Homo sapiens: one gene and its partners. The protein of the gene in region 1 purifies or fractionates together with the protein of each later gene. This does not show direct contact. Each region holds a gene or a part of one and is shown on either strand. Other genes may lie near its edges. The genes, in order: CEACAM16, GCA, OXSR1, MPP1, PSMG2, USO1 and EEA1.

What was found.
Region 2: the proteins of CEACAM16 (region 1) and GCA purify together in Homo sapiens (affinity purification with mass spectrometry; one large-scale study listed by BioGRID and IntAct). This does not show direct contact.
Region 3: the proteins of CEACAM16 (region 1) and OXSR1 purify together in Homo sapiens (affinity purification with mass spectrometry; one large-scale study listed by BioGRID and IntAct). This does not show direct contact.
Region 4: the proteins of CEACAM16 (region 1) and MPP1 purify together in Homo sapiens (affinity purification with mass spectrometry; one large-scale study listed by BioGRID and IntAct). This does not show direct contact.
Region 5: the proteins of CEACAM16 (region 1) and PSMG2 purify together in Homo sapiens (affinity purification with mass spectrometry; one large-scale study listed by BioGRID and IntAct). This does not show direct contact.
Region 6: the proteins of CEACAM16 (region 1) and USO1 purify together in Homo sapiens (affinity purification with mass spectrometry; one large-scale study listed by BioGRID and IntAct). This does not show direct contact.
Region 7: the proteins of CEACAM16 (region 1) and EEA1 purify together in Homo sapiens (affinity purification with mass spectrometry; one large-scale study listed by BioGRID and IntAct). This does not show direct contact.

The regions. Positions count from the first base shown.
Region 1 is NC_000019.10:44,705,651-44,709,150, forward strand, and holds part of CEACAM16 (cell adhesion molecule CEACAM16 precursor), read left to right. Parts: coding exon 1-218; intron 219-2,210; coding exon 2,211-2,537; coding exon of another isoform or gene 2,538-2,692; intron 2,693-3,500. UniProt on the Homo sapiens protein: Required for proper hearing, plays a role in maintaining the integrity of the tectorial membrane.
Region 2 is NC_000002.12:162,350,632-162,354,131, forward strand, and holds part of GCA (grancalcin), read left to right. Parts: intron 1-1,706; coding exon 1,707-1,776; intron 1,777-2,780; exon of another isoform or gene 2,781-3,102; intron 3,103-3,500. UniProt on the Homo sapiens protein: Calcium-binding protein that may play a role in the adhesion of neutrophils to fibronectin. May play a role in the formation of focal adhesions.
Region 3 is NC_000003.12:38,245,537-38,249,036, forward strand, and holds part of OXSR1 (serine/threonine-protein kinase OSR1), read left to right. Parts: intron 1-538; coding exon 539-685; intron 686-2,131; coding exon 2,132-2,196; intron 2,197-3,500. UniProt on the Homo sapiens protein: Effector serine/threonine-protein kinase component of the WNK-SPAK/OSR1 kinase cascade, which is involved in various processes, such as ion transport, response to hypertonic stress and blood pressure.
Region 4 is NC_000023.11:154,791,986-154,795,485, reverse strand, and holds part of MPP1 (55 kDa erythrocyte membrane protein), read left to right. Parts: intron 1-3,200; coding exon 3,201-3,344; intron 3,345-3,500. UniProt on the Homo sapiens protein: Essential regulator of neutrophil polarity. Regulates neutrophil polarization by regulating AKT1 phosphorylation through a mechanism that is independent of PIK3CG activity.
Region 5 is NC_000018.10:12,709,542-12,713,041, reverse strand, and holds part of PSMG2 (proteasome assembly chaperone 2), read right to left. Parts: intron 341-3,500; coding exon 282-340; intron 1-281. UniProt on the Homo sapiens protein: Chaperone protein which promotes assembly of the 20S proteasome as part of a heterodimer with PSMG1.
Region 6 is NC_000004.12:75,808,077-75,811,576, forward strand, and holds part of USO1 (general vesicular transport factor p115), read left to right. Parts: intron 1-876; coding exon 877-975; intron 976-2,355; coding exon 2,356-2,463; intron 2,464-3,500. UniProt on the Homo sapiens protein: General vesicular transport factor required for intercisternal transport in the Golgi stack; it is required for transcytotic fusion and/or subsequent binding of the vesicles to the target membrane.
Region 7 is NC_000012.12:92,922,796-92,926,295, reverse strand, and holds part of EEA1 (early endosome antigen 1), read left to right. Parts: intron 1-3,500. UniProt on the Homo sapiens protein: Binds phospholipid vesicles containing phosphatidylinositol 3-phosphate and participates in endosomal trafficking.

The DNA of each region.
Region 1 (3,500 bases):
AGTTGACTTCAACACGTCCCTCACCCTGTGGTGCGTGTCCAGGTCCTGCCCAGAGCCCGAGTATGTGTGGACCTTCAACGGGCAGGCCCTAAAGAACGGCCAAGACCACCTCAACATCAGCAGCATGACAGCCGCCCAGGAGGGGACGTACACATGTATTGCGAAGAACACCAAGACCCTGCTATCTGGATCTGCCTCAGTCGTGGTCAAGCTCTCTGGTGAGTCACCCCCAGCCTGACCACCCCCCAGTCCCCATGGAGGCCTCATCAGGCTGCGAAGGTTAAGCCACCATTTGCCCAACAGAGAATTGGAACATGGTAGATTCACAGTTCATTCATGAGCTGTGACAAAGTGGCATATCAGGCAGATCTGTTTGCATCTGGGTCTAAAGAGAGACAGCCCGTGTCCTGTTCACCTAGAGAACAAATGGCAAACCATTGTGGGTTGACAGAGTGGAAAATCACTCAGATATCACTTCAGGTGGGTGCCACTGCTCTAAATTCAGTCACCAGCTGTTTAGGGCCTTGACCCTCTACCCGCCCCCACCCCACCACACAGACAGCTGAAATTCTGTGCAGCCAACTAGACTACCCAGTTATCTGACCCAGATGATGGGTATACACACACACACACACACACACACACACACACACACACACACAACTGAAGAATCACAGCCAATTGCTGGCAAATGGAGAAACAGCTGGGGAGGCATTGTCATCTTGCTTCTGTCCTAAAATGACCTGAGGGCTGGGGCAGTGCAGGCAGCTGGCATTTCAGAGCCATTGGGATCCTCAGGCGACATTTTCTCATCTTCCGGAGATGGTGGCTTTGAACATTAAGGCCTCATTAATTCTACCTCGGTTCCTTCCCAAGTGGCCATCAGCCCCCGGGGGACAGTGGGGAATGGTCGTTCCCTCCCTCCCACTAACAGGCTGGGTCTCATCCAAGGGGTGGATTTTCACCCAAAGCAGAAATGGCATCCCCAGAGGTAAGTGTGACTCCCGCTCCACTCATCTGGGGCTTTGGCAGCTGGTCTTGACAGGAGACAGGGGGATGGACCAGATGACCTCAGGCGCCACCCCAAGCCCTGTCTGTGCAGTCCAAGAAGGGGGGTGTCCAAGGTATGCAGGTATGTGCAGGGAGTGGATACAGTGCCCCCAAGGGCTTCTAGCACTGTCAGCAACTCTGTGGCAGGTGCTGGGAGAGACACAGAAGAAAAGGAGACGCCACCCTCCCTCCACCTTGGGAGACTAATCTGATGGAGGAGACAAGGCCTCTGTCCTTGGAGAGATGATCCTGGGACAGGGAAACATGGCTCCTTTATTCAAGGAATAGCTGCTCAAAGAGAAGAGGCAATGCCTCATCCTTCATGTCAGTAATGAGGGAGATATGACAACCCACCCTCAGTGAGCTCCTAGTCAGATGGAGGAGACACAGTCTGCACTTGGGGAGAAATTTCCTTCTGATGGGGAGACTTGGTCTCCAGGAGACATGGCCCTGTTTTTTGAGCATTCCTAGTCTGATGGGGTATCCACCTTTGGGGTACTCCTAATCTGATGGAGGAGTACAGGACCCCACTTTCTAGGAATTTCCAGTCTGATGGAATAGACATTTCCCTCTAACTTCCAGGGTCCCCAACTTGATTGGAAAAACTCAGCAACAATTTAGAATTTCTCAATCTGATGGAGGAAACAGGGCTGCCGCCTTGTAGGAATTTTCAATCTGATGGAGGAGACATGCTCTCACCCTCAAGAATCTTTCAATCTGATGGAGGAGCTATGGCTTACACATTCTGGGGTCTCTCGGTCTGACAGACACAAGTCCCAACCATCTCATGGGGAAGACATGGTCCCCATTTTCTGGGATTTCCACTCTGATAGGGGAGACATGGCCCCTATATTTTGGGAATTTCCAATCTGATGGAGGAGACATGACCCAAGCCTCTAGGGTCTTCCAGTTTGATGGGAGAGACACCTCTCAAAGTCTGGGAATTTGTAGTCTGATAGGGGAAACACAGACCCCAGCAGACACTACTGGGACCCAGAATCCACCTCCACCACCGCACAAGTCACCTCCTTCCTCAGTCTCCTTCCCAGCACCCTACATGGGGAGTGCCAGCCAGCTGGGGGGAGGCCAGCAAGGGTTGGGAAGGGGACACCATGCCAGATGCAGACCAAACTGACCCAGCCCGCTCGCTCTCTCCCCAGCTGCAGCAGTTGCCACGATGATCGTGCCCGTGCCCACCAAGCCAACGGAGGGCCAGGACGTAACACTGACCGTGCAGGGCTACCCCAAGGACCTGCTGGTCTACGCCTGGTACCGCGGGCCTGCCTCCGAGCCCAACCGGCTGCTCAGCCAGCTGCCGTCAGGAACCTGGATTGCAGGCCCCGCGCACACAGGCCGGGAGGTGGGCTTCCCCAACTGCTCGCTGTTGGTGCAGAAGCTGAACCTCACAGACACTGGCCGCTACACACTCAAGACTGTCACAGTGCAGGGCAAGACTGAGACACTGGAAGTGGAGCTGCAGGTGGCCCGTGAGTGTGTGGGAAGGGGCAAGGCGTGCCCCTTTTTAGACAAGGGCTCCCAAAAGGAGCCTTTGCTTCCTCCATCAGGCTGGGGGGACATAGACCAAAGATGGATACCCATCCCCCATCAGGCTGAAGGAAGCAGCCTTGTCTCCTCCGCCTAACTTGGGGGTCCCCAAATAGGGTTCTGCCTCTTCTATCAAACTAATGACCTACACTGTGGGTAGACAGGCCTCCTCCATCAGACTGAGGGTTGCTAAAGGGGACCCCCATGCCTTCTCTCTCAAATAAGAGGTACAGCACACTGAAGGTTTTAAAAGAGAAGGCATAGTCTGATGGTGGAGCATCCTTTTTCCTGCAGACAGGTGGACCCTAAAACATAGGGTCCATATTGGGGTAATGGGTTAATTATAGGAGTTTACCTCTCCTATCAGACTGCAGGCAGAGAATAAGGATGAATCAGGCCTCCCTATTCAGACTGGGAGATCCTGTGCAGTGGGGATCATGTCTCCTCCTTTCTATTATTGTGAGGGCAAAGTTTCTATCATCAGATGGTGGAGTTTCTCTTTCAAACTGAAATAAGGATGATTGCTCCATTAGGATGGAGGCCTGTAGGTGTGGAAGTTGTGTCTCCTCACAGAATGGAAGTTCCCAGATGTTGGGGACCATGTCTCCCCATCAGACTGGGAGCTCTTAGAAGTCAGGAACAATGTCTCCCCCATTGGATTGGGAATTCCCAAGTGTTGGAGACCATGTCACCTCCCTCAGACTGGGAGCTCTCAGATGTTGGGAACCGTGTCTCCCCATCAACTGGGAGCTTCTAGAGTCAGAAACTATGCCTCCTCCATCAGACTAGGAGCTCCCAGAGTCAAGATCCAGGTCTCCTCCATCAGACTGAGAGCTCCCAGAGTTATAGACCATGTTTCCTCCGTCAGACTGGGAGCTCCCAGAGGCAGAGACCACGTCTCCTTC
Region 2 (3,500 bases), on another chromosome or scaffold:
TGGACATATATTTGGAAACTCTTTTTGACTGCTGAACTATTTCAGCATTTTAATTGTCAGCAATAAATTCGCTATGTTTGAACTATTTGATACTTTCCTTAAATTTCCCAGTCTTGTGCTTTTGAATAAATAAACTCCATAAAGACAGGGTTCTGGTCATATTTTCCCTACTTGACAGGTAGATATTAGGAATATATAAACATTTGATAAATGTTTCGTATGGATGAATTAACTATCCCATTTTCAATTTTTAGTCTAAATATTTAGACTGTATTTTTTCATATATTGAGTTCTACCTAGCTTTGAGGGATCAGGTGCAACATCTGACTTAGGTATACTGCTCCTGGAACCCAACTACTGAACTTACATCTACAGCCATATCCTTTTTTGATGGGCCTCATAATTAATAATGCTCTATGAAAAACACCTGATTAAAGGTTTCTGCAGTGTTCTTATTTATAGGATGAAGTATTCTAAACAGTAAGGATTAAATCATCAATTAATTTGGGGAAATTCTGGTTTCTGTCTTCATACATACAGACACATGCATCACAGTAATACCAACAACTTTAACTTTTGTATGCACACTGCTTCTACTTTTCCACACAGCAACTGTGATGTGGGCATGACACAGCTACCTTTGTATTATAGATAAGTAAGTGGAGACTCAAATTGAGTAACTGAACAAATAGGACTTGAAGTTGGATATCATTTTAAAATCTTGCTGCCTAACGAAGGGCAATTGATTTTTGTTAATTCTCTACCTGATGCTCTTGTAATTTAATTAGGACATTCAGCTTTCTACCGCTAATGCTACCTAATTCAGTTAAGGGAAGAATGCTGCTTAGTATTTTGTAATTTCTATTAGAACAGCTGCAGTTTTGTAAGGGGTTCTTTTGCCAAAAATCCATTAGAATGTGAGTGTTAATAATATTTCTTAGAAGTAGTTTAGAAAAGTTTTTTGTTTTGTTGTTTCTTGGATCTCTTATGAAGAGTAGGTTTTAAATTTGCCTCCTTGATCCTTCATCATAGCTACATTTTGCATTTGTGCCAATGTTTGTGATGGTTCCAAAGGAATTACTTATTTTTGTCAAAAACAGGATGAGGTACTAAATCATAATGAGAATACTCAACCTATTTCATTTCCATTGTGATTTCTTGTTTGCATTTTAAAACTTTATTTTCTGTAGTAAGTTCAGGCAAGACTTGTTTGGGCAGTAATCAGAAGAATAGCAGCAAGATACAGGGGGACTCTAGAATTTTGCTAGGGGTAATGGTGGGGGAAAATATATTTTCCCCTTCCAGTTAAAGCTTCAGTATTATTTATAAATAATCTCCTCCCAAAACAGCATGAGTGGGGATGTTTTCGAGACTTTTCTGAACACATTTTAGGCATTTTTCTAACTGTTTAACTGTTTTTCTAACTGTTTAAAATAGAAGTACAATGACTCTTATGAGATTGTCTTGAACCATTATAGAACAGGGTAATTGTGCTATTCTTCAGAAGTGGAAGAAATTATTTCTGTGGTATGATATTTTGTAATATGCCTTTGTTGTCAGTAATTATCTCTAGAATTTTGTAGTTAATTATAGAGTAATGTTTCAAAGAATGCATATGTCTTGATTGGCCTAGAACAGTCAATTGACATTTTAATATGCTTTTATACAACTGCACATTAAATTAGGTCATAATTATTTTTAAACAGGATGGTGAAGTGGATGCTGAAGAACTTCAGAGATGTTTGACACAGTCTGGAATTAATGGAACTTACTCTCGTGAGATCTTTTTTCCCCTTTTGTTGAAATTATAATAGGAAGTTTATTTTCTTACTTTTTTTGTCCCTGTAATTAAAATGTTTAAAAAATTATCACAGTTATACATGCACATAGTTTAAGGAGTCAAATAACTGTAAAACTCGTTATGAAAATAACTGTTCATTGTGTATTCCTGTCTCCTTAACATTAACTGCTCATAGAGGACACTTCTTTTGACTTTTAAAAATCTGATTCTTTTGAAATTTGCTTCCAGATTTCAAGATAGAATATTTTTTTCACGATTGATTTTTGGATTTTATGATTATCTATTGATATCCTGCTATGAAAGATGAGGATTTCACTTTATTTTAACCTTAAACTCTCCCCTGTCTCTGCACTCCACAGAGGAACATTTCCCATCCTCCTGTCCTTCCAATGTAGTTATAATATATAGTAACTTTTGTTAGGTATGTTAGTCTTTACCTTATTTTTACTATCTGAATGCTGCTTATAGCTGTATCTTATGATAATGTATGATTACTTTTCCTTTTTATATAATGTTTTGCTTTTCTTGAAATCACTAGTTGTCAGGTATTATCCTAGAACTCTGGGATATGCAGTTTTTTATGTGTAGCTGTCATACTGGGATTCTTTCACCATCATTCTGAAGCTGGTTTCCCCGTTTCTCTTGAGTTAGATCTCCTTTTTACTCCATCTCTTGTTGTCCTCTTTTAAAAAATTCATTATCTTATTTTAGTGAAATGTATAGTTAAGCAGCTTCTTAATATAAAAAAAAAATACGGCCAGGCGCCGTGGCTCATGCCTGCAATCCCAGCACTTTGGGAGGCTGAGGTGGGCGAATCATGAGGTTAAGAGATCGAGAGCACCCTGGCCACCATGGTGAAACCCCGTCTCTACTAAAAATACAAAAATTAACTGGGCGTGGTGGCACGCACCTGTAGTCCCAGCTACTCGGGAGACTGAGGCAGGAGAATTACTTGAACCCAGGAGGCAGAGGTTCCAGTGAGCTGAGATTGGGCCACTGCACTCCAGCCTGGTGACAGAGTGAGACATCATCTCAAAAACAAACAAAAGAATATATGGGAGATAAATTTTTGAGAGCTTATGTATCTAAAAATGCTTTCATTCTACCTTCAGAATTGATTGGCCAGGTATAGAATTCTAGGTTACAAATGATTCTCAAGTAGAATTTTAAAGGTATTGCTCCATTGTTTCTAGCGTCCCTTGTTGCATTATCTTTCTCTTTCCTGCCTGGATGTGATGTGATTTGTTATTCCTCTCTGGAAACTTGTGAGATCTTTGTCTTTAGTATTCTGCGATTTGATGGTAAAGTACCTAGTTGTGTTGTGTGGGGAACTCAGATGGTATTCTCAGCCTGGAAACTCCTTTGCTTTAGATGTAGGACGTTTTCTTCAATGATATTTTCTGTTTCTTGGAATGCTTTTTGTTTTCACTGGGTTTTCTACTTTTATCATCTTTTTCCTCCTATCATTTTTTTTTGCTGAACTTTTTGGGAATTTTCCTCAACTTTATTTCCTAAACCTTCTATTGAGTCTTTCATTTCTGCTTTTCATTAATATCCAAGAGCTTCTGTTCTATTTTCATGAATGTGATATTGTCCCTTATCTCTCTGAGACTATTAATATATTTTTAAAGTTTTTTCTTCCTATATAACCTTTGTTTTTTCCAGATTGTTTTTTCTCCTCATTTTGCTTGTTTTGGTT
Region 3 (3,500 bases), on another chromosome or scaffold:
CTGTATTTTGGAGGTGCTGTTTTGCTGGGCAAAGGAATGGAATAGATTTTGTTAAAGATAAATATAATGCAAACTGAAGACAGACACAAAAGACTATATATTATATGATTCCATTTATATGAAATATCCAGAAAAGCAAATTTATAGAAATTAGGATCAGTTGTTGCCTATGGCTGGGTGTGGAAGCAGGAACTAACTATAGGCATGAGAGGACTTTTTGGGGGTGATGGAAGTGTTCTAAAACGATTGTGGTGATGGTTGCACAATTCTATATATGGTACAAAAATCGCCAAATTGTACAGTTACAGTGGGTAAATGTAGAGAAATATAAATTATACCTCACAGAGTTGTTAAAAGTTTAAAAGCCTAGAAATATTTGACTTCCGTTTGGAATAGATATATTCGGAGTAGACACAAAACCTGTACACTACCCAAAAACTACTTTGAAAATATCACCCTGAAAGGCTGAACTTGCTGTCAGCAGACCTGCCTCCCTTTCCACACAACTTAAGCAACACTGTGTGTGTTTTTGTTACAGCTCTTTCCAACAACTGATCCTGTGGGTACTTTGCTCCAAGTTCCAGAACAGATCTCTGCTCATCTACCTCAGCCAGCTGGGCAGATTGCTACACAGCCAACTCAAGTCTCTCTCCCACCCACCGCAGAGCCAGCAAAAACAGCTCAGGTAAAGCCGGGGATATGGTTTCATGGTCACTCCTTTGGATAGATGAAAAGAGCAGATATTAACGTGGAATATAACCTAATGTAATCAGGTTAATGTCTTGGTAGATTTTGAAACAAGTTAGAAATTCTGTCTTCACATTTTTAAGCATGTACAGGTAAGAGAATTTTACAAGGATCACATGCAGGTTTTTAAGCAACAGAATAAGTTAATGATGGAAATATTTCAAACATCAAAAATTTTGGGCTAATTTCTTGTCAGCTTTGTATTAGATAATTACATTTAACTTCAGAATGCAGCTCATGAAGTTCAACAGAGACTAGGAGAATCGATGGCTGTACTGTTTTTGTTGTTGTTGTTCACTCAGGCTTATACTTTTTATTAATACTCTTTGTTTTCTGTGGTTTTTCTCTATTACTCTTTTTAAGTTATTTGTCAATTTTGTGAGGGTTGGTTTGTTAAGTCCGGGTATTATAATCTGTAAATCATTTATCCAGGTGCACACAAACTTTATTAAATCATACTTCATTGAGAGCAGCCAAGTGAATGAAGGCCCCGTAGTGGGCTGCTACATGCTGTGTAACTCCTTCTCTCCCTTCAATAAACCTCAGACACTGCATACAACATGTGGCCCTATGGTACATGGTTAAAGTAAGACTTTCAACGTCCATTTATTAAATATTAGAAGTTCCATTTTCTTGTCTAACGTTTTAGATGAAAAGAAATATAAATTAAAGGTCTGATTTTTTTTTTTTTCTTTTGCACCCCAGTAGATCATCTCGTGTTCTGCCTTTGGAGATCACTGCTTTGAGCATTTCCAATTAGTCATGGCACTTACTTCATTTAACTTTGCATCCCTCAAGCTTTCCATTTCTGCTTGGCATATGGGAAAAGATACAGTTGTCTTAGGAAAATTGATGGAAAAATTAGATTCATTTTATAAACAACTTAAATCGAATGCATGTCCTCCCATAAGCAAGCGCTGTACAATTTTCAGAGAGGATTAGTTTAGCCATAAAAAGACTGGAACCTATGTATGGGTTGGATGGATTTCTGAAGGGCAGCTGGTTCAGGGTCTACCTTTTGTACTGCCATATGGTGCACTGGCAGATTTTTTAAAAATGAGAAACCTAGCTTTGTGTTTTTCAGTCTTGTAGAGGGGAACAGGGGTCTCAGAAATATAAAATGTAAATGTGGCTATATGTGAAATTTCATCTGGGCTTGAGAGTTTTCTTTCTCATTGTGTTGGACTTAAACTGACATTCAGCTTTTGTTGCTGCCTTGGAGTGCATGTCCTCCTCCAGCAGGGAATGTCCTGGGGATTAGTATGACCTCAGCTGGAGATGAAGAAAATTGCTGCCAAGTAAATGATTCCTCTGCCAGTGACCATTAGTCACCTCCCCACTTAATGTTTCAGGCAATGACTGTATACCTTTCAATGCTTTTTAGGCTTTGTCTTCAGGATCAGGTTCACAAGAAACCAAGATCCCAATCAGTCTAGTACTAAGATTAAGGTAAGTAGACATTTTTTGTTTTGTTTTCTTTTGTTTTCTGAATATTCTGCATGTGCTGTAATAGTCTGTGCCTGAGAGTAACTGGATAGGATTGTATGTCCTCCAGCATCAAGCTCTGTTTGCTTGGTGGTGTATTATTTTTCCCCAGAAATAATAGCAACAGTGTGAGGACCTGCATGTTAGCAGGTGTTGTGACTAACTGATGCACATGTTCTCTCAGTTGTTTCTGTGCTAATTGGTGATGAGTTTGTGTATTTACAGTGTAGCTAGTTTGGGTTAGGAGGTGTAGCCTGTAATTGAGGAACAGTTTTTAGGGGAGCAGCACTAACTGGCTTATCTGAAGATCAGTCTTATAATTGTGACGAGGTAAACTCTGAGATCAACTAACCCAAGAGGGGAGCACTTTTTGATTGTGGTAGATCAAATAAAGGCCTTGTTTTTAGAAGGTTAAAAGGAAACTTCTAAATGTTTTTGTAGTCTGTTTCTGTTTTGCAGCAAGTACCCTAAATTGGTGGTTCTTGGTGGGAACATATAGAGAGGTCCTGACAGATTGCTCAGCAGGAAGTGCCATAGGTAGCAGTCTGTTCATTTTAACTCCCTGCCCCGCCCCCCCCGCCCCTAGCACTAGTAGCTGGATTCAAATTCCAGAGCTTTCTTGTCAGAATCACTATGGCTGTTGTATTGCTCTAGTTAGGTCTCTTTCTACTCATAAATGCATTTGAAAAAAAATTAGTATTAAAGTATCACTTGAGGCAACTCAGGCCTTTTAAAACTATTACTAACATTTTAAAAAAGAGTTCCACTGAATTACCATTAACTCATTCCCCTTGCACATATAAATTCCTAGTCATCTTTCTGTAAGGTCCTAATTGGAGATAGAGGCAGCAAGAGCTATTTAAGAGAATGTGGTAAGGAGAATCTCATTGCTCCTTGCCACTAGGAGCAATGCATTTATGCCATAAATGTGAAAAACATATTTGGTTACCTTTCCTTTACAGAAGCCTACTTAGTATACCTGGTCTCATCTCAAAAATTCTGAGTTACTAGGATGTCTTGACAACTTCATGCTGTTTTAAATCTACATAAAGAATAACACTTTAAGAAAATTATTGTGAAATGTATTAAGCACAGACTATGTATAGCACTCTTCGGTACTGTGGAAAGGTGGATACTGAGAAAAGAGAAAATTAAATGACTCCCTTAATAATCAAGTCTAGGTTGGAAGTTGATTTGAACTATGTACTTACACAGCTAAAAGCAAATTTCAGGTAGTATATACATGCAGAAGTATAAGTTTGTATGTA
Region 4 (3,500 bases), on another chromosome or scaffold:
GCCAGTTTATGGATTTTTAAGCAAATATGAATATAATCATTCTTTCACTGTTTATGATGAAGCTAGTATACCCTTCATCACATTATTATTATTTTTTGCTTAACAATAAATCTTCAAGATCACCCTCAGAACCTCCTTTTCCTACCTACATGGTGTATCCCGGGTATCATAAGTCAATTTTTTAAATATAAGCCTATCTTAGACAATTTTGTTATAACAGCAATGCCATATGACTTGGTGTCATGTGAGTTTTTTGAAGTTCTAGTTGCTAGAGAAGGCAGTTTCTCTTTCTCAGTACTTCCCTCATTTGAGGTCACCTGATAGCGAATACTACTTCAAACCTCACCATGTTTTTTGTTTGTTTGTTTGTTTGTTTGTTTTTCTGAGACAGGGTCTTCCTCTGTTGCCCAGGTTGGAGTGTAGTGGTGTGATCATGGCTCACTGCTGCCTCCAACTCCTGAGCTCAAGCAATCCCCCTGCCTCAGCCTCCTGAGTAGCTGGGACCACAGGCTTGCACCACCACACTCAGCTAATTTTAAAATTTCTTACAGAGGCAGGAGTTTCACCATGTTGCCCAGGCTGGTCTCAAACTCCTGGGCTTAAGCGATCTCCCCACCTTGGCCTCCCAAAGTGCTGGGATTACAGGTGTTAGCCACTGCACCTGGCCCAAACCTCACCATCTTATCAAAGTTTCTACTTAGAAATCAGAGTCCCTTAGAAATGATGTAAGCCTCTACTCCAGACTTCCTTCTCTCTCATCTTCTAGTCCTTTTCTAGGCCTTGGGCAGGCCAGTGGACACTGCTCAGGCATACCATCTATTCCCATCTAGGGACCCTTCTCCTTCCCCACACAGTGAATGGCACACTCCTCACAGTTCTGCCTATTGGGAAGATCTTCCCTCCCTACTGTCTTTGAGGGTCACCTCTGGGTGTGACTGGAATGCAGCTATCCCCTATTTTCAGCAGACCCTTCCATAAGCCCACTTCAGGCCTATTCCTCCTCCTCGTCCTCCTCCTCCTCCTCCAGGTGGCTATATCATTTTTGATTTAATATTTTATCTGGGGTGGGCAGGGAGCATTTTCAGAGGTTTCCATAGTTTTTCCCCATTGTGATTGCTCTTACCCAGATCAGTAAGATGAGGAAAGAACAGCAAAGCAAACTGAGAAGGAGCATTTTAAGGAGAAGAGAGTGATCACCTGTGAGACTGATCCACAGGTGATCTACCATGGAGTGGTGTAGCAGTAGCCATTCATTGCCATTGATGTAGGGTATCCACTTGGATATGCTTCAGTTTATCCATTCTACTGTTGATGGACTTTTGGGCTATTTTCAGGTTTGGGCTTTTAAGAGTAGTGTTGTTCTGGAAAGGGCACACCACTACTTTCCTGGAATTCCTGCCAAAAATGCAAAATCCCAGTCTAATCTTGAAAAAACATCAGATGATAACCCCAAACTGAGAGACATCTACAAAATAACAGGTGTGTACTCTTCAAGAATGTCAAGGTCATGAAAGAAGAAAAAGAAAGGCTGAGGAAATTTTCCAAATTAAGGAAGAGTAAGGAAATGTGAAATGCATGATTGGATTCTGGTCTTAGATTGGATTCTGGGACCAAAAAGTCCTAGGTTGGATTCTGGACTGGGGAAGAAATATATAGCTATAAAGGACATTCTTGAAAGGGTTGGCAGATGACAATATTGTGTCAATGTTAAATTTTCAGTTTTGAAAATGCTCGTTCCTAACATATAGAGACATCTATGGGTAAAGGAGAATGAAGTCTTCAGATTACTCTCAAATGGTTCAAAAATTAAATTTTATAATATTTTTTAAAGAGTACTGGCTGCTCTTGGAATGGCGCCAAAAAGATGAAAGAATTTTATAGTGACACCCATATAGCCACACCTCCTAGATTCTACAGTTAACATGTTGCTGTGTTTGCTTTATCACATTTCTATCCAAAAACTGCCCATCTATCCACCTTCTTTTTCCTGGTATTTCAAAATAAGTTTCAGATATCAGAGCACTTTACCCCTGAAAGCTTCAGCATGCATATCATTGGCTCAAGTTCAGGATTTGTTTATGGTTCTTTTCATCCTGTTATTAAATTGTAAGAGTTCTTTATATGTTCTGGATACAAATCCTTTGTCAGATGTAAATATTGCAAATGTTTATTCTCAGGCTGTGTCATACCTGTCTAGTTTCTTATGTAAGATGTTTGAATTTGATGAAGTCAGTTGTTTGCTTGTATGATGATTGCTCCGTGTCTCGTCTACTAAATCTATGCTTATCTCAGTGGAGTTTTTTGATGAATAGACTTCTTACTTTTAAAGTGTTTGTCTTTTTAGTTTTCATTTTATACTCGGGACCTTTTATGACATTTATCGTGCAGACCATTTTTCCCCGCTGCACTGCAGTGTCACCTGACTATAAATGTGTGGCTCTGTTTTTGCACTCTCTGTTCCATTACATGGGTCGTTTGTCTTTCTTCTTACCACAGTGCCTTAAATTACTTTAGATTTATAATAAAGAGGCCTTGCTGCCTGGTAGAGTAACTCATTTAGCTTTGCTGTCTTTGAGATCAGGGGAAGAAGTCACAGTGGCAATGTATTATTGTTATCACCGCGGTTCGGGGCCCAGTCCTAAGTGCCTAATTCTACAGGTAGAAGTTCTTTGTAGCCTAAGGGGTGATTCATGAGAAACTGATGCTAACCTGAATTACCTTTATTGCTGTGTGACCGAGAGCATCAGGTTGTTCAAGGAAATACAAAGGAGAAGAGAACATGCCAGAAACCCTTGGAGCCTGAGGTGCCGCAGGATTCAGAATCTTTCTAATTTTGTTATATATTATGTAATACCCCAAGCAGGATCCAGGAGAGCACCATGTAAATCAAGGCACATTAATATTTCTGCAGCAACCTAGATAAACATGTCTATTTTATTTATTTTTAGAGACAGGGTCTCACTCTGTTGCCCTGGGACTGTAGCTGGGACTACAGGTGCACACCACCACACTTGGCTGACATGTCTATTAAGTTGGAGAAATAAAGCTTACAAACAGCTTCATGTCAATTCAAATAAGAATGAGGCCAAACTTATGAAATAAGTTTTCAGAGCCTCTTGAATGTTAGAATTGCAGATTGTGGACTGGCTGTGGGCCTTGCTCCTGATTTCATACGTTGCTTTGTTGTTTTGGCTTGGCAGGCTGTATCGCATCCATTGAATACTGTGACCGAGGACATGTACACCAACGGGTCTCCTGCCCCAGGTAGCCCTGCCCAGGTCAAGGGACAGGAGGTGCGGAAAGTGCGACTCATACAGTTTGAGAAGGTCACAGAAGAGCCCATGGTAATCCCCCGTCATATTGTCGCCCACCAGTTACTCTCTGCCCCATGAGTCACTGGGCCAGAAGAGTCAATGCAAGAGGCTGCTCATGGAGTTAGGGAATTGGCCAACCCCAAAATTGTCTTTTCATTCTTATCTCAAATTCCTCCTCAAAGCAGG
Region 5 (3,500 bases), on another chromosome or scaffold:
AAATGGAATAAACCTCTAATATTAATATGCTTACATTTTTTCACCAATGCTACCCGAACTGAAAATATGTTAACACTCAAGATAAAAGCCCTGCTTCCTTTCTATATAATCATGAAAAGACAGTAACACATCTGAAATATTGTAAGATTATTTCTCTGTAGAATCAGATCTTAACTGTACATATGGTAAAAACAGTAGTAATTTTTGAATCTTAATCCCTAATGTTACTTATTTTCTCATTACACTTTAATAAACAAAAAGGCAAACTACAACATACTAACCTTAATAAAAATGGATCTTAACTGTAGAGCCACCAGCTTTCTTGAAGGCAATGAATACACTATAAAAACAAGAAGAAAATGAAATCATATGACAGTGAAGTTATACAAGTTGAAATTATTATGATAAACAAAAATTGAATTATAATACCTTTTGCATTTAAATGTTTTCAATAATTAAAATACGGAACATATATGACATCTGGTTAAAATAAGACCTTTTAGAAGTACCTTAAAATAAGCCAGTGGGCTTTATTCTATGGAACAGATTCATTTCTGAAAAGTTAACTGTAAGAAAATATAAAAAATTATTTTTCTTTTGACTTTAACTGCAAAACCAGAGAAGTATTCCCCTGAAAATTTCTGGTATTATGACAAATAAAATCATCCTTAAGAAAACTGAACTTTTTGGCTTTTGATATTCTCCCCTCTTTGTCTCCAGAGAACAGCAACACTCATTGGGATTAACAGAAAAAACAGTAAAAGGTAGGAGAATGTTAGCCATGTAATAAAATCCTGAAATAGGTACATGTGTGTTCCTTAGAACTTTTTAAAGGATCTGAAATAACATAAAATGTCATGTGAGTCAATGTGTTTGTATTTTTTACTGGGAAAAGGATCCATAGCTTTCATCAGGTTCTACAAGGGGCACACTCTAGAAATGCTTAAGGCTTCCCTGCCCAACTTCATTTCTAAGAATGAGAAGCAGCTGGGCATGGTGGCTCACGCCTGTAATCCCAGCACCTTGGGAGGCTGAGGCAGGTGGATCACAAGGTCAGGAGATCAAGATCATCCTAGCTAACATGGTGAATGAAACCCCGTCTCTACTAAAAAATAAAAAAATTAGCCAGGCTTGGCGGCGGGCACCTGTAGTCCTAGCTACTCAGGAGGCTGAGGCAGGAGAACGGCGTGAACCCGGGGGGCGGAGCTTGCAGTGAGCAGAGATCGCGCCACTGCACTCCAGCTTGGGCAACAGAACAAGACTCCATCTCAAAAAAAAAAAAAAAAAAAAAGAATGAGAAGCTCCTGAGTCAGGGATAAAATACTCTCTAAGGACACAGGATTACTACTGTGCTAAGGGGTAAGTGTTGGTTACCATAAACAGATTGCAAATAACAGCAAATCCTTTGGTGGATCAGGTCTCTACTGTTACAGGTCTTTCGGAAATTGTCTCCTATGGCTGGCGTGATGTGGTGTGACTGGGGGGTATGCTGAACTCAGCAAATCTAGCAAGCACCAGGTATGTTCAGTCCAAAGGAAGTTTAGGAATTAGGGAAAAGGGTATAAATTTAGGGAAAAGAGACTAAGGCAAAGATTACTCAGCCTCTAACCTATCTGTGACAAACACATGTAGTCCAATTCAACTGACCTAGGTTTGAAAAGAATGTATCTGTAGGGGGTGGACAGGCTAAGCTTTTTAAAATGTAAGCTACCACTTCTTCGGTGATAGCAATACTCTCCTCATCAGCGTATCATACAATTCTTTTTTTTTGAGACAGAGTCTCGCTCTGTCACCCAGGCTGAAGTGCAGTGGTGCGATATCGGCTCACTCCAACTTCTGCCTCCCAGGTTCAAGTGATTCTTGTGTGTCAGCCTCTCAAGTAGCTGGGATTACAGGAGCACACCACCACGCCTGGCTAATTTTTGTTTTTTGTTTGTTTTTTAAGACAGAGTCTTGCTCTATCACCCAGACTGGAGTACAATGGTGTGATCTCGGGTCACTGCAACCTCTACCTCCTGGGTTCAAGCGATTCTCCTGTCTCAGCCTCCTGAGTAGCTGGGATTTCAGATGCACACCGTCACAACGGGTTAATTTTTTGTATTTTAGTAGAGACAGAGTTTCATCATGTTACCCAGGCTGGTCTCGAACTCCTGAGCTCAGGCAATCCACCCGTCTTGGCCTCCCAAAGCGCTAGGATTACTAGCATGGGCCACCGTGCCCGGCCTATGCAATTCTTTTTGTTGTTAGGTTCCTGTTTCCTAGTACTTTTTTCTTCTGATGTGATACATTACGAAAGCAACAACACCTTTTCTGTATTCTGCCCCAAAACATTAACCTTTTATCTAATCAAGCCTTTAGAGCTAACTCCAGTTACAGAAAACACAGGGGCTAGAACAACAAGCCAAGTGACAAGAGGACGTAATCAGACAAATCAGAAGGTGGGACATTGTACAAAACAATACACCTAGTCTTTTCTTCAATAAATCGGTTTGTGATGAAAAAAAAGGGACTGCTCTAGAGTAAAAGAGATTTCAAGGGCACAGCACAACAATCGGATATATGAGGGGTCTTCAAAAAGTTCACAGGAAATGTGTACTTACGAAAACATTTTGCACCAAAATAAACTTGTACTGACTTGCTGTAACACGCCTGAAAAGGATCTGGTTTGAGGCACTAAGAAGGATAAGGCATTAAGTGCCCCTATCACAGCAACATGAATTCTGCTTAAACTGAAGCAAGAACATCAAATTTATGGTGAAGCTTGGGTAGATAAATGGTGAAATCACAGATGCTTTAAAAGGGGCGGGCGTGGTGGCTCACACCTGTAATCCCAGCACTTTGGGAAGCTGAGGCGGGCAGATCATGAGGTCAGCAGATGGAGACCATCCTGGCTAACACAGTGAAACCCCGTCTTACTAAAAATACAAAAAAAGTAGCCGGGCGTGATGGCGGGTGTCTGTAGTCCCAGCTACTTGGGAGGCTGAGGCGGAAGAATGGCGTGAACCCGGGAGGCAGAGCTTGCAGTGAGCCGAGATCGTGCCACCGCACTCCAGACTGGGCGACAGAGCAAGACTCCATCTCAAAAAAAAAAAAAAAAGTTTATGAGGGCTGGGCGTGGTGGCTCATACCTGTAATTCCGGCACTTTGGGAGGCTGAGGCGGGTGAACTGCCTGAGGTCAGGAGTTCAAGACCCACCTGGCCAACATGGTGAAACCCTGTCTCTACTAAAAATACAAAAATTAGGCCAGGCGTGGTGGCTCACGCCTGTAATCCCAGCACTCTGGAAGGCCAAGGTGGTTGGATCACCTGAGGTCAGGAGTTCAACACCAGCCTGACTTGCATGGTGAAACCTCATCTCTACTAAAAATACAAAATATTAGCTGGGCGTGGGGGCGTGGACCTGTAATCCCAACTACTCCAGAGGCTGAGGCAAGAGAATTGCTTGAACCCGGGAGGTGGAGGTTGCAGTGAACCAAAATCGTGGCATTGCACTACAGCCT
Region 6 (3,500 bases), on another chromosome or scaffold:
TCAGTGTCTCCAGACATTACCAAATGTCCTCGGGGATGGGGGGATATGGGGAGAAATCACTCCTGCTGAGAGCCATTGTTATAATTGCCTTTCTTTTCCTGTACTTTTTTTGGGGGAGGAGAAGGTGAGAAGTTTGGAAATTCAACATTAATAAAAACTTTCAATTAATACCCTGGTTTTCATTATAGTACTACTGCTTTCATCTGTGTTTGGTGGTCCCTAGTCTAAAGATGTCCTGTTTTGCCCAGCCACATAATAAACCTCAAGTCTTCATCCAGGAAAGGAGGAACGGTTGCCTGATGCCTAAGATTGAGACAGGGATCTGATGATCTATTTCTTAAATAGTCTTTTAACCAGGCCTGCAGTTTTTAACCTCATTTTTATCTGTACTTCCAGTGGTATCTAATGATACCAGTTCCTAACCTTTCTGGTAGTTAATGCATTCATTGTAAGTCAGGTACTATCTTAACTTTCTCAGTGGTCATCCTAGCTTTCAGCTTTCTCAGGTGTGCTGATTTAGTTATCACTGTTACTTGCTTTCTCAAAATTCCCCAATTATATTGCTCTCTTCTCTTACTGTTCTTGTTTTTGTAGGTTTCTTCCTCTCTCCCTCCCATCCTTCCTTTCTTTCTTCCTTCTCCCCTCCCTTCCTGTCTTTTATGATTTTTTTTTTTTGCATGGGATTTCAGGAGGGAGCAGAGGTAAATGAATGTGTTGAATTTTCCATCTTGAACCCAAAATTCAAGAATAGTTCTTTAGAGTTAGATTTTAAAAGTAGGAGGTTGTAAATCATTTTTTTAAATGTCTCCCTGTAAATATTTCCTTGATGAATTTAATACCATTTAATGTTATGACTCAACTATTTTTGTCTCTTAGGAACTGGCAACTTTAAAGTCTCAGTTAAACTCACAATCTGTGGAGATCACCAAACTACAGACAGAAAAGCAGGAACTGTTACAGAAAACAGAAGCGTTTGTAAGTATTTTCTCTTTTTTCTCTGGAAGGTAATAAAGACAAGGTTGATGTATTATTTCTTAGCCACAATTAAAAAGAAACAAATTCATCAGATAGCACCTTCTCTTTAGATTACTTACTAGCCGGTATTCTAGTAACATAGGCTTCATGTTCATGGTGACAGTCGTTTTATAGTCAGTCTCACCAGATTAGTTTATTCAGTTACTTAATAGTTTATTTTGCTGGTATTACATTCTATTTCTGTCCCTTCAGTCCAAGCTGGCAGTTTTTCTGCTGTCATAAAATATTCAGAAACCGTTGTTGTTTTCTCCAGAACATTCCTTCTCATACTTTTGCAATATAGGTAGACTGAGAATTTTCCAAATCTTCTAATTCTGATTCTTTTTTGCTTAGCAATTTCTTCTTCAATTTATCTCTCTTCTCTCACATTTAACTTTAAGCAACAAGGAGAAACCAGGCTGCACTCCAACACTTTGCTTAGAAACCTCAGTAAAATATCCAAATTCATTATTTACAAGTTCTGCTGTCCACAAAACACTGCAACACTATTTGGCCAAGTTATTTGCCACTTTATAACAAGGATTGCCTTTCCTCCGATTCCCAGTAACATGTTCCTAGTTTTCATCTGAGACCTCACCAAAAGCACCTTTAACATTCATATTTCTGCCAGCATTCTTCTTCTCACTATGACCATGAAGCTTCTTTCCAACTCCGCTCTTTTCTTTCTGAGCTCTCACCAGAATCACTTAATGTCCATATCTCTAGCAACAGTCTCATCAAGGTAATGCAGGCTTTGTCTACCATGCACCTCTCTTACAGCCTCTACTCATTACACAGTTCCAAAGCTACTTCCACATTTTTAGATATTTGTTGTGTCACTACCCGACTTCCTAGTATTTTAGAAAAAAGACAAGGAAAGACTGAAAAACTGTTATTCAGGAGTGTCTCCTCTAGCACTTGAGAAAAGATTTGCATTTCACTAATAATGATATTTGGCTCAATTTATCTACCTATCTAGGGTGGTAGTATGGACTTATAGGAAATTTATGAAGGAAAGGCTTTGAAAAATATTCTGTGTTTATTAAATGCTGGGTTACAGTTACATTAGAGCTGCCTTGCTGATTACTTTTCTGGGCTTACCTACCTTGAGGCACCTTAGCCCAGCCTTCCTCGTACTCTTATGAGATTTGATGCTCTTCCATGTGGGAACAGCTCATCTGACAGTGGAGAGCACTTTGTTGCACATAAATACATAAGGAATTATATTTTCTGTTAGTGAAAGTAAAATATCAAAATGGCAAAAAAATTAAATAACCCTTTGGGAGTTCATATTGATTGTAATGTTTAAGAGACATCTTTTTTTCCAATTTCTAATTTCAGGCAAAATCAGTTGAGGTACAAGGAGAGACCGAGACTATAATAGCCACCAAAACTACTGATGTAGAAGGAAGACTGTCAGCATTATTACAAGAGACCAAAGAGTTAAAGGTTTGTTTTTGGTGCAACTTTTATTTACTGCATATGATATGAAATGAACTCTAGGAAATTTTATATATCTTTCAAATTCTTAGATTTATGAAGAAAGCTAATGATGTGTAATTTTATCTCACAACATTTTCACTCCTATATTGATGATTTAAGATGGCACAAATGAAAATTTTTTTTGTTTTGGGTTTTTTTGTTTTGTTTTGTTTTTTTGAGATGGAGTTTCGCTCTGTCACCAGACTGGAGTACAGTGGCGCGATCTCGGCTCACCACAACCTCTGCCTCCCAGGTTCAAGCAATTCTCCCGCCTCAACCTACTGAGTAGCTGGGACTACAGGCGTGCACCACCACACCCAGCTAATTTTTGTATTTTTAGTACAGACAGGGTTTCACCACGTTGGCCAGGATGGTCTCCATCTCTTGACCTCGTGATCCACCTGCCTTGGCCTCCCAAAGTGCTGGAATGCTGGAATTACAGGTGTGAGCTGCCGCACCCAGCCACAAATGAAGCTTTTAAAATACTATTTCAAATAATGATAATATGTAAGATAAGCATACATATGCATGTACTATAAAAGTAAAATTTATTGAAAATATTTTTGTTTTCTTTCTTTCTTTTTCTTTTTTTTTTTGAGAGAGAGTCTCAATTTTGTGTTCCAGGCTGGATGGAGTGCAGTGGCATGATCTCAGCTCACTGCAGCCTCCACCTCCCAGATTCAAGCGATTCTCCTGCCTCAGCCTCCTGAGTAGCTGGGATTTCAGGCACCTGCCAACATGCTCAGCTAATTTTTGTACTTTTAGTAGAGACGAGGATTCGCCATGTTGGCCAGGCTGGTCTCAAACTCCTGACCTCAGGTGATCTGCCCGCATTGGCCCCCCCCAAAGTGCTGGGATTACAGGCGTGAGCCACCACACCCGGCCTGTGTTTTCTTTTTAAGATCAACATCTAATCACAATAACAAAACAAGGAGTACAAATTTAGCTAATACACAAGCCACATGTAGGCTTTCCATAAGCCGTGGAACATAGGCACATTAAAT
Region 7 (3,500 bases), on another chromosome or scaffold:
CTTGGCTGGGTGCAGTGGCTCATTCCTGTAATCCCAGCACTTTGGGAGGCCGAGACGGGCGGATCACCTGAGGTCGGGAGTTCGAGACCAGCCTGACCAACATGGAGAAACCCTGACTCTACTAAAAATACAAAATTAGCCGGGAGTGGTGGTGCATGCCTATAATCCCAGCGACTCAGGAGGCTGAGGTAGGAGAATCACTTGAACCCGGGAGGTGGAGATTGCAGTGAGCTGAGATTGCTCCATTGCACTCCAGCCTGAGCAACAAGACCGGAACTCCGTCTAAAAAAAAAAAAAAAATTATGTGGCATTCCTTTAGCATTTTGTTTTTAGATGAACTTTTCATTTTAACTATTCTTATTTTCTTCTGAATAGTTTCCTTTAAATAGCATTTTTTAAAAGAAGAAACAGACAAACTGCTTACCATCAATTAGAACTCAAAGTGTTTGAACATCATCAATAAGTCTCAGGATACTTTACGGAAATTTGGTTTCTGGTTCTCCTGCTTTTGTCCCTCCTCCTGCTCCTCCTTTTTCATTAGCTTACTAAGGTGTTTCTCTGAGGCTTGAAAGAAGCTGGAAAACAAAAACAAAAAAACCTCAAAACAAAACCAAAGTGAAGTAGCTCCAATATGTATGTATTGAATATTTTACTTAATAGTCCTTCAAAGAAAAACATGAATTTAAAGTACTTGATGGTTAGAAATTTAATCAACGTTTAGTACCTTAGGCAGCTTGTAAACCTTGTTGCCATTTCTTTCTTAAGTATTATAACTTACTGTGGGCTGGCTTAGTGGCTCATGCCTGTAATTCCATCACTTTGGGAAGCCGAGGCGTGCAGATCACTGAGATCAGGAGTTCGAGACCAGCTTGGTCAATGTGGTGAAACCCCGTCACTACCAAAAAATACAAAAATTAGCCGGGCATCGTGGTGCACGCCTGTAGTCCCAACTACTTGGGAGACTGAGGTGGGAGAATTGCTTGAACCTGGGAGGCAGAGGTTGCAGTGAGCCAAGATCGTGCCACTGCACTCCAGCAACAGAGTGAGACCCTGTGTTAAAAACAAAACAAAACAAAACAAAAAAACTGTGATTAGTGTTTTTTTTTTTTTTTTTGAGACATCTTTTGTGGGCCAACTGTGTGCTGTGCAGACAATGATGGGTAAAGTAGTCATGAATTTTTTGTGGAGTTTAGCGTCCAGTGGAAGAGAGAGGAATTGTTCAGAGATTCATACAACTATACTCTTGAATGAGTTCTAGGAAGGACAAACTCAGGATGCCCCAAGAACACCCAGCAAGAGGGCCCTGGTTTTAGATGTTGGGAAGGCTTCCCAGATTAGTTGCCCATCTAAGTTTGATGAAAGTATTGCTAATTTATTGAAGTGAATTTTAAAAAGTGACAGCTAATGGAATGATTTTCTTTTTGAGTAGTTTTTTTTTTTTTTTTTTTTTTTTTTAGCATGTTAGGAATAAAGAAGAGATTAAGATATTAAAGAACCAGGACTAGAACTAAGAATAAAGAAGACGTTAAGAAATGAAAAGAACCAGGGCTAGTACTCAATTTTCTTCTCTAATTCCAGTGGCCTTTTGCTTGAGCTAAAGAAATAATGTAATTTAGTAGTTAAGAACATGAACTCTGATGCCAGACTACCTGGGTTTGTATCCTGTTTCATTTACTATCTGTGTAGTTTTGGAGAAGTTACTTCTCTGTGTCTCAGTAAAATAGTTGTAATAATACTAGCCTCCTTATAAAGTTGAGAACTAGATAACTAATATGTATAAAAGTCTCAGCCAGGCGCGGTGGCTCATGCCTGTAATCCCAGCACTTTGGGAGGCTGAGGTGGGTGGATCACCTGAGGTCAGGAGTTTGAGACCAGCCTGGCCAACATAGTGAAACCCCGTCTCTACTAAAAATAGAAAAAATTAGCTGGGCGTGGTGGCGGGCACCTGTAATCCCAGCTATTAGGGAAGCTGAGGCAGGGGAACTGCTTGAACCTGGGAGGCTGAGATTGCAGTGAGCCGAGATTGTGCCATTGCACTCTCCAGCCTGGGCAACAAGCAAAACTCCATCCCAAAAAAAAAAAAAAAAAAAAAAAGTCTTAAATGTTAGCTGCTGCTAATGTTGGTGTTTTGTTGTTGTTTTTGGTGTTTAACTTTCTTTTCTTATTTTTTTCTTTTTTGAAACAGGGTCTTGCTCTGTCAGCCAGGATGGAGTGCAGTGACACAGTGACACCGTCACGTTCACTGCAGCCCCTGCCTCCTGGGCTCAAGTGGCCCTCCTGCCTCAGCCTCAGGAATAGCTGGGATTATAGGTGTGAACTACCACACCTGGCTGATTTTTTTAAAATGGTGTTTCAGTGTTATTATAATTATAAACTCCAAATTTCTTTAAGGAACACTTTTCTTATCACTTCCTTTATTTTTCTAATCTCCATTTTTTTTTTTTTTTTTTGTAGATGAGGTAGATGAGGACTTAGAACATAGGTACATTCATTTTATGTACTACCGAATATTTATTTTGTGCTAACTACTGTGCAAAACACTCTTGAGAGTAAAAAAAAAACCTGCTGAGTTTTAATGGAGGAGACAGATAAATAATTACAAAACAATGTGATAAGTGTAATAGATACACAGAGGAAAAGTTTGTAAGCACAAAAGAAAAAGTAACTATGTGGTGGAGAGGGGGTGTGGTAGGGGAGGGCAAGGAATAGAGATTGTGGAAGTCTTTGCAGAGGATGGCAGTGACTCAGGCAAGGAGGGAAAAAGGACAGAAGGGCATTTTAGAGATAGGAACCAGACAAATCCAAGAGCATGATATAGTTTAGTATAGAGTAGGGGGATTGTGCGTATTTCTGGATGTGGATGGGATGTTTGCAACAGGTAGCTTGAAGGGTTTTGGACCTTATACTGTAGACAGTAAGGAGCCACAGAAAATTTTTTTTTTTGTTTTGAGACGGAGTCTCGCTCTGTCGCCCAGGCTGGAGTGCAGTGGCGCAATCTCGGCTCACTACAAGCTCCGCCTCCCGGGTTCACGCCATTCTCCTGCCTCAGCCTCCCGAGTAGCTGGGACTACAGGCGCCCACCACCGTGCCTGGCTAATTTTTTTGTATTTTTAGTAGAGACAGGGTTTCACTGTGTTAGCCAGGATGGTCTCGATCTCCTGACCTCGTGATCTGCCTGCCTCAGCCTCCCAAAGTGCTGGGATTACAGGCGTGAGCCACCGCGCCCGGCCAGAGAATTTTAAAGTTATCAAATCTGTAATAAGGAAAAACCCTCCAAAAATATTTCTCCCAGGTAATCTTTATTTTATTTTATTTTATTTTATTTTATTTTATTTTTGAGGTGGAGTTTTGCTCTTGTTGGCCAGGCTGAAGTGTAATGGTGCAATCTCAGCTCACTGCAACCTCTGCCTCCCGGGTTCAAGCAATTCTCCTGCCTCAGCCTCCTGAGTAGCTGGGATTACAGGTGCCCGCCACCACTCCCAGCTAATTTTTTTTTTGTA